Linked DNA regions of Homo sapiens: region 2 is linked to region 1. Evidence: fine-mapped expression QTL. Tissue or cell type: lung. Region 1 holds a variant in brackets; the other region holds the start of a gene. All regions are shown on one strand. Distances are between the middles of the regions. Region 1 overlaps SETDB2-PHF11 (SETDB2-PHF11 readthrough). Region 2 holds the start of PHF11 (PHD finger protein 11).

Region 1 (5,378 bases):
TCTTAATCCAACCATTCCTTATCCCAATCCCCCAAATGTGGTTTTAAAAATGTTTTATTAAATACTTATAAATTCCTCGAACTCCATCAGACTGTGGAACTGCGTCGTCCTTCTTGGCACAGAAAAAGTGGTAATTCTTGTTACAGTTTTTTAAATCACATCCCACGGTGGCTCCTCTTTTATGACAAAATTTGCATTTCTACAGAAGAATAGATTTTACTGAGTAAGTACCTGTTTGTTGTTATTTGTTAAAATTCAAAGATATCATTAAATGTTATTTAAGTTCCAGAAGCCCTGCATTTTATCCTGGGCATCATCAGCAAGATTCCATCCCGTTACAAACATTAGGGTACAGTACTTATATTTGGCTGCTCATTTGGGAATTTCAGCGAAACCTCAGCTAACCGGAATGCTTGGACAGACAGTTTTGTAATGATCTGATTAAAAGCAGAAAAATGCTTTTTGTTTCAAAAAAACAGTCTCTGTCTTTTAAAAAGAATTTTCTAAAAAGCAGAGTGGGCAAACTTGTCCAGCTCCAGGCAAGGGGCCCCACTAGGGGGCCCTTTGAGACAGGCGAGATTGGTCGCTGGCTGTGCCACGGAGAGTGGTGTGATTTCTCTTTCGGACTCAGAACCTGCTGTGGGTGATAATATCTGTCTTACAGAGTTGCCATTGAGGATAATGTGAGATAAAGTAAGGGAATCTAGGTAGTAGGGCCAAAAATTTTTAAAAATTCTACAACTCTATTAACAGTTTTTTCTTGGTTCAATTTATTTGATCCCTGGCTTGTATTTATCTATCTGGTATTTTATATGTGACAGTGGTGTCATGATGGCTAGGCAGTGTGTGGCCACAGCAGCCTAACTGGTTTAGGGGAATCCAGCCAGGACCAAGGCTGATCAGCATGATACTCTGGCTGAATGACGTGGGGGCACAGTGAAATTGCCTTGCAGAACAGGAGGTCACTCACACCATAGCCCAGGGTCGGCACAAGCAAGCATAGAAACAGTTAAAGGAAATTCAAATATAGGCAAGAAATAAGGTTATGATAACGGTGGAAATTCAAATCAGAGCATACAAGAACGATCATTTAATTTGGGAGGAGGGTAACTGGCTATGTATATAGGAAAAAAATAAAGTTAGATCCCTACCTCACAATATACTCCTGAATAAGTTGTACATGGATTAAAGCTCGAACCAGATAACAATGTTAAACAAAAAACTCTTAAAGATTAGGAAATATAGGAGAAAGAAAAAAAGCGTAGTATGGAGGCAAGGAAGGCTGTCTAAGGCAGGAAGAAAACCCAGAAGCCACAAATGAAAACTCTGACAGGCTGGGCATGGTGGCCCATGCCTGTAATCCTAGTACTTTGGGAGGCTGAGGCAGGAGGATTGCTTGAGCCCAGGAGTTCGAGACCAGCTTGAGCAACACAGTGAGACCTCATCTCTACAAAAAACTTTAAAAATCAGCGGGGCATAGTGGCACACTCCTGTAGTCCCAGCTATTTGGGAGGCTGAAGCCAGAAGATGGCTTGGGGCCAGGAAATCAAGGCTGCGGTGAGCTGTGATTGCACTCCAGCCTGGGCGACAGACGGAGAATCTGTTTCAAAAACAAAAACTGACAGAACCTACTATACAAAAATTTTAAACTTCCATTTTATAGTGAGGGCATTCAAAATATTTAAAAGACAAGGAAAAGATTGAAAGAAGAATGTTTGTAGCATACTAGATAAAGTTTTAAGATTCTGATAACCTGCAGAAAAATGGTAACTGGCAAATTACAGAAGAAAAAATACAAATGGCTAATAAACATTTATTCATTTAAAAATACATGAGTATATAGTATTTATTTAGCATGCAGTAGCTATGATGTGGCAGGCATGGTTTTAGGATAAGGGAAAACAGTAGTGGACAAAGCAGAAAAGATGCCTGTCCACGTGAAGCTTACATTCTATTGGAGACAAGGTACAATGATCAAATAAAGCAAAGTTTAAAACGTCTCACAAAGTTATATACACATTATATCGAATTAAAATAGGG[T/G]GAAGTGACAGTGTCACTGGGTCCCTACTTCAGACTGGGCAGTTAGTAAAATGGGTCACCTCTAAGGAGGTGATATGGAAGCTGAGATCTGAATAATAGTAAGAGCTCCCAGATGCAAAAAGGAGGAGGAAAGACATTCTAAGCAGAGGGCCTTGGGTCTTGGCCGCAAGAATGAGCTTCCCCATTGGCAAGCTACAGCGAGGACAAGACAGATGGCCAGTGCTGTTGGAGCAGCGAAGTGGGCACAGGGAAGTCTCAGGATGATCAAAGGGGTAAGTAAGGGCTGGGTCACGTAGGACTTACATGCCAGAGTAAGGAGTTGGGTTTTATCTTTCTGCACGGGGAACATAAACTGATTAACATTATTGAAAGATCACTCAGGCTGCTGGGCTGCTGCTGGGTGGAGAACTACGGGCTGGGGTAGGGATGGCAGGAGAGACAGTCGGGCGAGTGTCAGTACTCGCTTTAGAGAACAAGATGGGTGACTCCGCTATGGTGGATTACTGACGCTGAGAGAAGTGGGTGGATGAATGCAAGATGCACCTAGGAGTTCGTGCCCATGGGCTTGGTGTTGGGCTGGGAGGTTGACGAGGAAAAGAGAGTCCTTAGACTTCTGGCTTGGGCAAATGGATAATGATAGTGCTGTTTTTATGAGCAGATTTAGATGGAGAATGTGTGTGTGTGTGTGTGTGTGTGTGTGTGTGTGTGTGTGTGTGTGTGTATAGGAGATGGAACTGTACTTTTTTGGCCACTTTACTCTGAAATGCTATTGGATGTCCATGTGGCTCTGTCAGATTGGTAGTCTGAATCCTAGGGAGGAGCCTGCTTGCTGAGGGCCCCTGCTGCTCACCCTCAAGGTACTTGCCCAGCTTACTGAAAATACCACAGCACTGGCCTGTCCCCACCCTGGGTGTGTGCCATGTATCTGCCCACATAGTCCAAGAGTTCCATAAATGCTGTGAGAGGGTAACTATTACCTCAGGTGACTTTCCTCTCTTCTCTCCTTTATCCTCCACTTCCAACCCATCCCAAAGCCTTCCCAGTAGGGAAGTCTGCATCCCAAGGTCCGCAGAAACCCTCAGGTACCTGCTTTCCCCCAAATATTATGCCTCCAATCAACTGCCCTCATTTCTCAGCCTGGGTCTCTTCATAACTGGATGGCTACTAGAATTTCACAGAGATTTCTTTAACTCTGTGTCTCCCCACTCAAATCCAATTAGTGAAGAGCAAAAAAATATTCCAGTTGAGGTCTGTCTGCTACTTTCTAATCAGTTCACCCATCTCATCACACCCAAAATCCTAGGGATGTGGCATTGTCAGCACTAATGATGTCAGCAGCCAGTCTTGCCAAGTATTAATTAGTAATAGCATAGACATTGAGAGCAGGATCCACACACTCTTTTTTTTTTTTTTTAATTTGAGACAGAGTCTCACTCTGTTGCCCAGGCTGGAGTACAGTGGTGTGATCACAGCTCACTGCAGCCTCGACTTTCCAGGCTCACCCAATCCTCCTACCTCAGCCTCCCAAGTAGCTGGGACTACAGGTATATGCCACTGTGTCGGGCTAATTTTTTTTTCTTTTTTGGTAAAGACAGGGTCCCACTATATTGCCCAGGTTGGTCTCAAATTCCTGGGCTCAAGCAGTCCTCAACTGCCTTGGCTTCCCAAAGTGCTGGGATTAGAGGCATGCAGCACCATGCCCGGGCCACACACAGTCCATTTTTATGGCTTGCTTCAGGACCTACTACAGTATTGTGTACACTGCCTAAGATAGCATAATTTGCAGAATTCCATCTGGACTGTTGCCTTTCACCCTGCACTTTCCATTTCTTCGATTAAAATGGGCATCATTTTACCTATAGCTGGGAGTTTACCTAGAGCAATGTATGTAACACACCTACCACAGGATGCTGCTGATGCTGATGCCTTGCAAAGACTAACTATACATTTGTCCCTGGTTATTAACCCTGTGGTTGTAGTCAGAATGTGAGGTGCTCACACTTGCTGTCCTGCTTGCTAAGATGTGAAGGGTCCTTGAGAGGATGTCGCTGCAATAAGCCCAGTGGAATGACTTCTCAGCATTTCTTCCTCCTTGAATAGCCCCCTTATGACCCATGAGGAGCTGACCCCTGATTAGTTATGGCCACCCCCAGCAGTTGGTGCAGAAAGAGGGGTGCAACCTAATGAAACTTTCAGAAGGGGGCTTATTCCATGTGTATGGATGACCTTTGTCTTTCACTGGGTATGAACAAGAAAGCCTGATGCTTCAGTTGCTGCCTGCGGCCACCCTATGACCACAATGGGACCAGCTGATGTTGGGGACAGGAGGCCAGAGAGGAAGAACCTGGGCCCCTGATGACATTATCAAGCCACTCAATCAACCAACTTGGAAAGCAGGTGTTTTCTCTGATCAAGTGAAAAAGTAAGTATCCTCTTTGTAAAAGTCTGTTTGACTTGAGCTTTCTTCTACTTACAGCAAAAGCATTCTAACTCAGATCACTTTACTGGTGAAGTATATGGTAGTTTATTTTAAAATATTAAATGTTGGCCGGGCGTGGTGGCTCACACCTGTAATCCCAGCACTTTGGGAAGCCAAGGCAGGCAGATCACCTGAGGTCAGGAGTTCGCGACCAGCCTGGCCAACATGGTGAAACCCTGTCTCTACTAAAAATACAAAAATTTGCCGAGCATGGTGGCCCGTGCCTGTAATCCTAGCTACTCGGGAGGCTGAGGCAGGAGAATCGCTTGAACCCAGGAGGCGGAGGTTGCAGTGAGCTGAGACCGTGTCACTGCACTCTAGCCTGGGCAACAAGAGCAAAACTCCGTCTCAAAAAAAAAAAAAAAAAAATTAAATGTTAAGTTGAATTGAGGTTTCCAATACAGTTCCTACTTCTTCCAGCTCTCCAAGATGCTTCTCTATCCCTGGTGTATCAGTCAAATAGACTCCTTTGGAATGCATTCCTTGAGGGTCTGTTCATCCAGTATAAGAAATAACATCATTTACACTTACCAACTTCCTTCCTCTCTGGATTTCTTTCTTTACTGATTCCACATCAAAACTTCTATCAGGATTAAGTGGATCCTGATCCTCACATTCCACAAGTCCTGAAGAATACAGCTGCAGATTGGAAAAAAAAATCCAGAGTATGCACAAAGTAATATTGAAAGCTACATGTCAGAAAATCATACCAAAAGTGGAAAATCAAACCAGGAGTGGGAAATGGACTGGGGGTAAAACAGTGGCAACTTTGGGGGTGGATGAGCAGACCATAAGCCATCCCATTTCTCTGGGAATGACCCTGGTTTCCGGGCATGTTTTATACTTTGTAATCCTGACC
Region 2 (5,378 bases), 19 kb after region 1:
CCCCAGCAGGCATGTTTGTACTTCATTCCTCTAGACATAGCTGATAGTCCCAGAGGACCTGCTCATCTCTCAGATATACAGAATTCAGGATAGAAGATTTCAGTTCAGATTGGGCTGGTTTCTTAAAGAAGATGTAAAAACTGAGAGGCTGCAAGGGCAGCCATCTTCTATACCATCACCAGGAAAACTGGACCAGAGAAAGAGAAGAACAAAGCAGATACACTGAGAGATGCAGAAATAAGAGATAAAGGAGAGTGTTGTCAAAGTTTATAATGGCTTCTCAGGTCCTAGTCCTCAGCCCTTTCTGTAAGATGCTAAAGTATCCATGCTCTGGGGGTCTGTGAGTCTGGTTTTCCTGCTTACTACTACTAAGCATCCCTCATGCTTAAATTACATCAAATTGTTTTTGTAGTACTTGCAGCCAGTACGTGCTTATTAACACTGGAAGGACCATGACTTACTTGATCTGTGTGTGTGCACTCACATGTTTATATGTGTGTGTGCCCATGTGTGTTTAAGAGAAAGACAGTGCTGGCAGCGGTGTGGAAGGTGGACTGCCTTACCCTCAGGGTCTTTCACCTAGTCTATTCCAGTGATCTCTTGTCCTTGTCTCTATTTTCCCTGTCATGATCCCACTGCATTCTTTATATTACTGTCAGAATGATCTATCTGAAATGTATTACGTTACTGTCAGAATGATCTACCTGAAATGCACTATGCTACTGTCAGAATGATCTACCTGAAATGTACTAGGTTACTGTCAGAATGATCTACCTGAAATGTACCAGGTCACTGTCAGAATGATCTAACGGAAATGTACTAGGTTACAGTCAGAATGATCTATCTGAAATGTACTAGGTTACTGTCAGAATGATCTACTGGAAATGTACTAGGTTACTGTCAGAATGATCTACCGGAAATGTACTAGGTTACTGTCAGAATGATTTACCAGAAATGTGCTAGGTTACTGTCAGAATGATCTACCGGAAATGTACTATGTTACTGTCAGAATGATCTACCTGAAATGGACATCTGCTCATATTTCCCCATCACCTACAGAAGTCAAGCTCCGTAGTGTTATATACAAGTACATTCATTCCTTCAACAAATATTTAATGAGGACTTACTATTATTTAATATTTAATGAGTACCTACTATGTCCTACTACTACTACTAGGCCAACCAGTCTAGGCACTAAGGATAGAAGAGAGTAAGACGAATTTACATGCCAGTGGCCAGTGGTAGAGACAGGCATTAAACAAGTTTTGTTTTGTTTTCCAGGTAGTGATAAGTACTATAGAGAAAGAATAGAGCAGAAGGAGGTAGAGAGTGACAGGAGCAGGGGCAAGGGGTGCTCTTTTAGACAGGATGGGCAGGCAAGGTTGAGGGAAGATGTATATGAGCAGACACCTGAATATGATGGGGAACTGAAAATGGGATAATGTGGCAATGAGTTTTCCTTGCAGAGAATAGCAAATGGAAAGATCCTGAGGCAGGGACAGCTTTGGTGGCTTAGAGGACCTACAAGGTAGCAGGGTAGCAGAGTCATTAAGATGGGCAGGAGTCAAATCAGATAAGGACATGGGGTAAACTGCAGGCCAGGCTCATAGATTGTTCTGAGAGTCATGGGAGACTATTGGTGGGTTTTGAGTAGGAGAATCACATTTGCTTTTTGTTTTTCAAAAAGCATTTTGGCCGCTCTGCAGGCCTGCCTGTATTAAAGGCTAGAATAGAAGCCAGGAAAGCAATAGTCCAGACAGAAGATCATGATGGCGTAGGCTTGGGTGGCAGTAATGGAAGTGGTGAGAAGCAGTCAGGCTCCAGATACAGTCAGGCTGAACACAGAACTGGCTGGCCCGACTGATGCATTAGAAGGGGTGTCCGGAGGAAAGAGAGGCCCTGAGGAGCCACTAAGGTTTTTGCAAGGAGCACCTGGGCGAATGGAATGGGCTGGTGGTTGAGCAGGTTTGGAGTACCTGAATACAGTGGAGGAAACAAGAATTCTCTTTGGGACATACTCAGTTTGAGATCATTTCAGAAATGGAAGAAGTTGGTTATACCAGTCTGGAGTTTGAGGAAGAGGTCAGGATGGAAGCGCATCTCCCGTGACTTACCTTACAGTCCATATGTATACCAATGAATGAAATATCCAACTGATTGGCTTGTGGTTGCCACGTATGATGTTTACGTGTGACGTTTTGTGGTTTGGTGCCTTTGTGTCATCCTCTCTGCTGGGAACACCCCTTCAACTTTTCCACCTTTGGCTGAGTCTTGCCCTTTAAAGGTAAGCCCATGAAACATGGAGAAACCCTCTCTACTAAAAATACAAAATTAGCTGGGCGTGGTGGCACATGCCTGTAATCCCATCCACTCGGGAGGCTGAGGCAGGAGAATCGCTTGAACCCGGGAGGCAGAGGTTGCAGTGGGCCGAGATAGCGCCTTTGCACTCCAGCCTGGGCAACAAGAGTGAAACTCCTCTCAAAAAAAAAAAAAAAAAAAAAGGGTAAGCCCAGCCATCCTCTCCTCAAAAAGCTTTCCCTGAAGACTGGGAGTCAGGAGTCTCTCATCTGTACCTCTGTGGTTCTGACCTCCTCATTAAAGTTGCCTAGTAGAGTCTCTAGGGCAGGGTCTGCCTAACTCATCTTTGTATGCTCAGGACCTTGCCCTGAGCCTGGCACACCGTTTGGAGCTATACACACACGCAAGGGCAGGAACCCATCAGAAGACCCACCCACTCAAGTAGAGGGCCGGGGAGGACTGGAACGACTGGAGAAGGGGAGACGGGTTCCAGTCACGTCCTCCGTGAACGTGAGACCCAGCTCTTCCCTCAGGGCCGCCCCCTGCCTCACCGCATCAGGGCGCCCCTCCACTGTCCTGGTTTACCGGTGAGCGGAGGGGCGCTAGGAGAGTTGACATCGGTTGTGGTGGAAGCACTGGGCTGTCACCCGCGGGGGAGGTAAACCGAAGCGTGCCCACCACTCGCGCGAAACCATGGGCAGTCAGAGCCACCTGTGGAACTGGCCTGGGCCGCGCCCTGTCCTCTGGCCCCCTCCCCCACCAACAGGCACGCGAGTGGTGAGCCAAGTTCGTCCAGCGCCGCCCCGGCGTCTAGGGCCCCGGCCCGGAGTAGGGGCAGGTCGGGCCCCCATGCGGCCACGACCGGAAGGCAGGCCCCTTGACCGGGCCCGTCGCTGCCCAGCCCCGCCCGCCCGCCCGCCCGCCCCCGCGGTACACACCGGTGGGAAGGAGGAGCGCCTCCTGCGCGGGCCGGGCCTCCGGGCTGCTGGCGCCGAGCACCCTCTCGGGCCGGGGCGGCGACGCCTGGGCCATGACTGTGCTGCAGCTGCGGGTGGCGGCCGGATAGCGAGATCCCGGAAGTGCCCCAGCTGCACTAGGTTTCGTTTTCTTAAATCTGGGCTGTCGCTTTGAGTCACTAGCCGGCCCGGGGAAAGTTGGGTGTGCAGAGAGGGGTTGTCACACACACTGCTCCAGATTCCAGTCTAGTCTTAATTTGAATAGCTTAAAAAACCCAAACGCCGGGAGCAGTGGCTCACGCCTGTAATCCCAGCACTTTGGGAGGCCGAGGAGGGCGGATCACGAGGTCAGGAGTTCAACACCAGCCTAACCAACATGGTGAAACCCCGTCTCTACTAAAAATACAAAAATTAGCTGGGCATGGTGGCGGGTGCCTGTAATCCCAGCTACTCCAGACACTGAGGCATGAGAATCGCTTGAATCGGGAGGCGGGGCTTGCAGTGAGCCGAGATCGCGCCACTACACTCCAGCCTGGGCTACAGAGCGGGACTCCGTCTCAAAACAAACAAACAAACAAACACACACAAAAAACAAACAAACAAAAAAACCCCAAACGCCAGGCTTCCCTACTCCACCCCCCACAACACAGCGGGAGAAACAATCACTCTCCTGAGGGTTCCTCCTAAAAACTATCATACTGGCCGGGTGGGCGCGGTGGCTCACGCCTGTAGTTCCAGGACTTTGGGAGGCCGAGGTGGGCGAATCACGAGGTCAGGAGTTCGAGACCAGCCTGGTCAACATGGTGAAACCCCGTCTCTACTAAAAATACAAAAATTAGCCGGGCTTGGTGGCGGGCGCCTGTAATCCCAGCTACTCGGGAGTCTGAGGCAGGAGAATCGCTTGAACCCGGGAGGCGGGGGTTGCAGTGAGCCAAGATCGCGCCACTGCACTCCTGCCTAGGCGACAGAGCCAGACTCCCTCTCAAAAAAAAAAAAAAAAAAAAAAAAATTATCATACCGAGTTTGGCTTAAATAAGCATATCTTAAAAGGACGCAGAATTAGCCGATCCTAAATCCAGTTGCCAGTAGCAAGCCTTTATTTAGCACCCATAGGGTACAGAGCACCATACAAGATGAGGTTTTCAGTGAATCTAACATAAATGCATATAATTATAGTTAAAAAATAAGTTGTTCTGGAAAAAAGACATATAATAGTTGGTGGTTTGCTGAGGAATTAAAGGAAAACTGGAGGTCTTCCACTTTCAGCAGGTTGTAAAGAGGAAGACTGCCAACTAGGGATAGCAGAAGAGAGAACATTAAAAAGGACAATTTGTATAGTCTTGACAACTATGAAATGAATTGCAGAAGAGTGTGGGGTCTGCAAAACAGGGAAGTGAGCAGACAGACCCTAGCAGCCAATTTTTAAATTTTTTTTTGCCCTCCATGCAGGAGGATGAAAGAGTATTTCTTGCCAGGCCAAAATGAAAGGCCCTTTATAAAGAGACTGACATTAGGGTGTTCCCCAGCAAGATAGCTCAGGTAGGTCATAGTAAAACAAAGAGCCCTTTACCACACTCTCAGCTTATAGTAAGCTTTTTGGTGTTCCACACTTAAATATGAGTAGACTACCAAGACCATTAACTCTGAGGAAAGCCTATAATGTGAACGACCAAAACAAACATACAGGGGAAACAAAGAAACAAACCCTGGAGGACACAGATTATGCCGAAAGAATACAGAGATGCATGCCTGTATGTGTATGTATACGTGTGTGCATATACATACATAAACACACAAACATCTTCAAGGAGATAAAATACTGCAACCATGAGCCAAAATAGGATGCTATTAAAAAAAAAGAATATTCGGAGAAGGGGAGCTCTTAGAAATTAAAAATATGAGACAATATGAGACTAGAAAAATAAAATGCAACAGATGAACTGGAAGATTAAATTGAGAAATGCTCCTAGGAAAAGGTCCTAGCAAGAAGACAGAGCTGAAAGTTAAGAGAAAAGATAGGAAAATTAGAGATCAAATTCTGGAGGTCTAACATCTGGAAAACAGGAATTCCAGAAACAGTGAAGAGATGGGAAATCATTAGTTTCAGACGGAATGATCCCACCA

What was found.
Region 2: it holds the start of PHF11, and the variant in region 1 is fine-mapped to the expression of PHF11 in lung (GTEx, PIP 0.99).

Annotation. Positions count from the first base shown.
Region 1 is chr13:49,512,839-49,518,216 of GRCh38, reverse strand. SETDB2-PHF11 (SETDB2-PHF11 readthrough) reads right to left here. Exons shown (of 21, transcript NR_135324.2): 13 at 5,051-5,158; 14 at 66-199. PHF11 (PHD finger protein 11) reads right to left here. Exons shown (of 10, transcript NM_001040443.3): 3 at 5,051-5,158; 4 at 66-199. Among named protein-coding and RNA genes, the nearest start is that of PHF11, 20 kb to the right of the region's middle. The variant T/G (reference allele first, on the strand shown) is at 2,041.
Region 2 is chr13:49,493,954-49,499,331 of GRCh38, reverse strand. It overlaps PHF11 (PHD finger protein 11), which reads right to left and starts at 3,379. Exons shown (of 10, transcript NM_001040443.3): 1 at 3,237-3,379. The coding sequence starts at 3,330. The region is part of intron 12 of SETDB2-PHF11 (SETDB2-PHF11 readthrough); the gene reads right to left. SETDB2 (SET domain bifurcated histone lysine methyltransferase 2) reads right to left here. Exons shown (of 14, transcript NM_001160308.3): 14 at 4,329-5,378. RefSeq lists enhancers at 2,798-2,847, 3,338-3,577, 3,888-4,573 and a silencer at 3,038-3,317.